2 separate regions of the Homo sapiens genome follow, and region 1 is linked to region 2. Evidence: fine-mapped expression QTL. A gene starts in region 2. The other region holds a variant in brackets. All regions are shown on one strand. Distances are from middle to middle.

The links. PIP is the estimated chance that this variant, and not a neighbour inherited with it, causes the effect.
Region 1: its variant is fine-mapped to the expression of TMEM88 in whole blood (TOPMed, PIP above 0.99).

The regions. Positions count from the first base shown.
Region 1 is chr17:7,877,479-7,880,504 of GRCh38, forward strand. It overlaps a transcript of NAA38 not described here. Among named protein-coding and RNA genes, the nearest start is that of CHD3, 9.8 kb to the right of the region's middle. The variant T/C (reference allele first, on the strand shown) is at 1,334.
Region 2 is chr17:7,854,083-7,856,582 of GRCh38, forward strand. TMEM88 (transmembrane protein 88) reads left to right here and starts at 984. Exons shown (of 2, transcript NM_203411.2): 1 at 984-1,202; 2 at 1,363-2,017. The coding sequence starts at 993. The coding sequence ends at 1,632. It overlaps KDM6B (lysine demethylase 6B), which reads left to right. Exons shown (of 24, transcript NM_001348716.2): 24 at 1-714. RefSeq lists an enhancer at 1,903-2,440.

The DNA of each region.
Region 1 (3,026 bases), 24 kb after region 2:
CTGCGACACAGCCCCAGGAAATCCTGAGAACATGTGCCCCAGTAACTCCTTTTTCTTAACTGCTGTGTAGTTTGTTTAGCTATTCCTTACTGTTGGAGATTTAGGGTGTTTCCAGTTTTTTGCTGTTACAAACAGTGTTGTAATGAATAGCTCTGTAATGTCACCCTATGCATAAGTATGGTGACTGTTTCTCTATAATAAATGGTGAGAAGTGGAACTCTGTGTCAAAAAACACTAAGTTTATAAGTATAACACATACTATTAAATTGGCCTTGCTAGTTTTGTGGCATAGTTGTTATAGTTAATAACAGTAATATATGTGACCATCAGTTTCACATATTAGTGTCCTTTAAAACTCTAGGACATCTCATTGACTTAAAACTCATGTAGTATATAGTAGAAGAACACTAGATTGGAAACCGAAAGATAAAAGTTCAAGTCCTGGTTCTGTCTCTAACTACTAACTTGATCTTAGGTAATCCTTTCAATATCTAGGCCCCAGTTTCTATACCTATAAAATTAGATTAAAGTGATATTTTCTAAAATATGTACCTATATTATTAGTAGCATGCAAGATGCTTTTACTTTTATTGATTTTTATTTTAACAATATTGCATTTTAAATTAGAAAGAAAAACATAATTACAGTATCAAATTAAAGACTTATGAATATTATTTCTAGCAATATAAAATTTACCTTTTAAAGAACATTCATTTAAGTTAAAGAAAGGTGAGTGATTTAAAGAAAAATAGTATGCATATAATGGTATAGCTGATATATAGATATGGCAAATCATGAATATGATATATGAAGGACTGAAGTTTCCTCCTTGATAAAATCAAGAACAGGTTAGATTAAAGCAGTAAATCCTAGACTTTTAGATTTTAATGATCAATAAAATGTAAAAAAAAAAAAAGTTAGTGATCAACATGGGGTTGCTGACTTTTCATTGTGCTGAGTAAGGACATTAAGAACAACAAAATTCATAATCTCAGCACTGTGGGAGGCCGAGGCAGGTGGATCACCTGAGGTCAGGAGCTCGAGACCAGCCTGGCCAACATGGTAAAACCCCGCCTCTGCTAGAAATCCAAAAAATTAGCCGGGTGTGGTGGTGGCACGCGCCTGTAATCCCAGCTACTCGGGAGGCTGAGGCAGGAGAATGGCTGAAACCCGGGAGGCAGAGGTTGCAGTGAGCTGAGATCGCGCCATTGCACTACAGTCTGGGCAACAAGGATGAAACTACGTCTCATAAAAAGATATTTAAAATTATTTAAAATGTTGTATAATTATAAAAGAAGTACATGTTGAAAATTTTCAGATTGTACAGTAAGTA[T/C]AAAAAGTCATTTTCTTATTCTTTTCCTCCCCCTTCCCCACTAAAATCTACTCACATTCTGCCATACAGATCTATCTCAGCTTTAGAAAGGAAGTTTTTAACATTATAAATATGTATATGTGTATATATGTTTAATAATATGTAACATAATTTATAACATAAAATATAAGCATATATACATATATTTATCCTATATAAATATACTGTATACTATATTTATTCTATGTAAAAATATATATCAGAAATATATCCTCTCAGAATAAAGGACAGACTTTTCCAGTAAAGGACATGTGGCAACCTTTCTTAGCCATTTGAGAACCACTGATTTATAAGACCTTCCATCTCTAAAATACTATGATTAGGTCTAGACTATCCTGAGTATTTACATGCCTTTCATTATTATCACTGACCTACATATTTCAAAAGACAATTAGGAATCTCTTTAACATATCCTTGGGTAGAAAATCATAGATTGCAAGTGTTTTTTCAGTCTTTTACTCTGCTTGTTGTATGAGTACATGTCTGTGCTCTATCACTGATTATCACTGGTTCCCTACATCAGAGTTTTAACCTGGGGTCCAAGACTTCAGGGTATTCGTAACACCGTGAAAACATATGTGACATTTTGTGTGTATTTTTTTTTTCTGGAGAAAGTTTCTAACTTTCTACGATCCTAAAAGGTTAGAAATTATTGCTTTAGATATGTTTCTTGCTTTTGCGTTAAATAATCTTATTCTTGGCTTGAGAGTCCCTTAAAAATTTTTCTTCATTTGCATTTCACAGCTGAATATTTGAGTTCTTTGTTCTCACCTTAATAGTCTTCTCATTAAAACAAAAAAAATATTCTCCTGTACCCATTAATCATAAGGAATTTAAATTTTTTATTTAATTTTTATTTTTTGAAGTACTGAAAGACAGAAGAAGGCAGAGACTGATGCCCCACAATGAAAGTGACAGGCAGGGAGACAAGCAGCTAGACAGTGAGACACACAGGCATAGATAAAAGGCCTAACGACAGAGAGACTACACAGGCAAAAGAAATATAGAGAAACCTGGAAACACAGAAGGAGAGATGCAAGAACTGAGCAGACAGAGAAGAGGGATGGCAGAAAAATAGGCTGGCAGGGAGGGAATGGAGATTGACTGACAGAGAAGGCAGGCAAAATCACCAAAAGGGATGCAGACAGGCAAACAGAGAGAGAGAGAAAGAGAGAAGAAGGGAAGACAGATAAAGGAAGAAAAAATAAGGTAAGAAGGAAGACAAAGTGATAATGGTGTTTTATACAACATAGTGCTTTATAATTTATAAAGTGCTATCACATACATTACTGCAGGCAGACAGGGAGAATCCAGCAGACAGATGGGGTGATGGAAGGATACAGGCCAATCAGACAGAAGAGAGGGGAGAGGGCCAATCAGAAAAAGAGGCTAGAATAGAGATCAAGACAGACAGATAAGAAGAAAGAACCAAGAAAAGAGAAGTAAGAGAGGGAAAGAGGGAAAGAGTGGAGAGACACAAAGATAGAGGCTGAAACAGTTAAACTCAGGAAAACAGGCAGTAAAAAAGCAGAAATGAAAGAACAGTGCATTGTGTGTAGAAGTTTTATTATCATCTTTTTCAAAGAGACCTGGTTAGAGGTTGTGTCTTTGTCTCCTTCAAAGAGTTATAAAATGTCTCTAAGGTGGCATGTGA
Region 2 (2,500 bases):
TAACAGTCCCACTCACCTCTATTTATTCATTTTTGGGAAAACCCGACCTCCCACACCCCCAAGCCATCCTGCCCGCCCCTCCAGGGACCGCCCGTCGCCGGGCTCTCCCCGCGCCCCAGTGTGTGTCCGGGCCCGGCCCGACCGTCTCCACCCGTCCGCCCGCGGCTCCAGCCGGGTTCTCATGGTGCTCAAACCCGCTCCCCTCCCCTACGTCCTGCACTTTCTCGGACCAGTCCCCCCACTCCCGACCCGACCCCAGCCCCACCTGAGGGTGAGCAACTCCTGTACTGTAGGGGAAGAAGTGGGAACTGAAATGGTATTTTGTAAAAAAAATAAATAAAATAAAAAAATTAAAGGTTTTAAAGAAAGAACTATGAGGAAAAGGAACCCCGTCCTTCCCAGCCCCGGCCAACTTTAAAAAACACAGACCTTCACCCCCACCCCCTTTTCTTTTTAAGTGTGAAACAACCCAGGGCCAGGGCCTCACTGGGGCAGGGACACCCCGGGGTGAGTTTCTCTGGGGCTTTATTTTCGTTTTGTTGGTTGTTTTTTCTCCACGCTGGGGCTGCGGAGGGGTGGGGGGTTTACAGTCCCGCACCCTCGCACTGCACTGTCTCTCTGCCCCAGGGGCAGAGGGGTCTTCCCAACCCTACCCCTATTTTCGGTGATTTTTGTGTGAGAATATTAATATTAAAAATAAACGGAGAAAAAAAATCCTGTTTCGCTAACGGCTGGTGGTAGCAGGTTGAGTACCGGGAGGGCTGCAAGACCGTGATTGATGGGGAGGACTGCGCAGACCCTGGCGAGGGTGAGCCCCTCCCCGGAGGCGCCTGTGGAATGTCCAGGGCTCTGGTCCGCTCCTCGGGATGGGGGGTGCCTAATCCTAGAGCCGCATTCCAGGATAAGGGGGGTGGGGAGAGGCTGGGCCGGGGGAGGGGCAGGAAAGAGGGCTATAAGGGCAGCGGCCCAGGCGGGCGGGATCCAGGCGGGCCATGGCGGATGTCCCCGGGGCACAGCGAGCGGTTCCTGGTGACGGCCCAGAGCCCCGGGACCCCCTGGACTGTTGGGCCTGCGCTGTTCTTGTAACAGCCCAGAATCTGCTGGTGGCTGCCTTCAATCTTCTCCTGCTGGTGCTGGTGCTAGGGACCATCTTGCTACCCGCTGTCACCATGCTGGGCTTCGGCTTCCTCTGCCACTCTCAGGTGAGCGTGCGCCCCGGGGTGTGCGTGTGAGTGTGAGTGTTGGTGTGTGGTGATGCTGGCGGTGGGGTCTATGGGCCACAACTTCAACCCGCCTGGGCTGTTTCCACCCCGTGCACAGTATCGCCTGGTCGGCTTGGGCCTGACGCCTCTTCTCCCACAGTTCCTGCGCTCCCAGGCACCCCCTTGCACCGCGCACCTGCGGGACCCCGGTTTCACGGCCCTACTGGTCACCGGATTCCTGCTCCTCGTGCCGCTGCTCGTGCTTGCTCTGGCCAGCTACCGCCGCCTCTGCCTGCGCCTCCGCCTAGCCGATTGCCTCGTGCCCTACAGCCGAGCCCTTTATCGGCGTCGGCGCGCCCCGCAGCCGCGGCAAATCCGGGCCTCACCAGGGTCCCAGGCCGTTCCCACATCAGGAAAGGTCTGGGTCTAATGACCCTCGAGTCAAGAACAACCCTGACGGCTGCCCTCCCTCTTATTCGGCCCAAGGACTTGAAGCCCGGCATCTTCCGACCTGCCCTGCCCCCACCCCTGCCTGAGCGGAGTCCTAGCATCCCCTTGGGAGCAGCAGCGTCAGTGGACCCAGTGCTGAGAAAAGCCCCCACATCCCGGAAAACCCACTTTCCTTTCACGACCCACATCTCAATCCTGAACATCTAGGCTGGAACCTGCACACCTCCCCCTCAGCTCCGTCGTGAATGGGACAACAATCTCGTGCCCTCGTTTTATGGTGCAGCTTCTCTAGTATTTCTGGGGCTGGGGGGCGGGGCTGGAGGGGAAGGAGTGTCCACGCATCAATAAAGATTTAACGAACTGAACGCGCTCTGCGAACAGAGGCGTGGCACAAGTACTATCACCCCTGCCCTGTGCCGAGGAACAGGAAACATGTGCCAGGGCTACAAATGAGCAGAGAGGAGCATCCTTGAGCCCCCTGGCCTTATCGCTTTTGTCCGTTCTTCCTGGCCAGACCTCAGAGATCTGTTCCTGACCCCAGGCACCTCCCCCTCAATAGAGTGGAGGGGCCCAGCCTCGGCCGCCTGCCGCTGCTCCCCTTGGGGACCTGAGCCCGTTCTCTGACCCCAGCTTAGAGGAACTCGGTGTTGCCAGGCCGGGGTGGGAAACAATGGGCCTTCCGGAGCAGGATGACACCCCCTCCCGCCACAATTCTGGAGCAGCAGCCGTGGGAGGGAAGATGCAGGGGCCCACCCTGGGGCCTGTTGGTCCGTCATTCAGCCCTGCCCCCCATCTCTACCCCTGAACTTGAGAGAACCTTTGGCACCCCTGGACATCTTGGTTGGGAG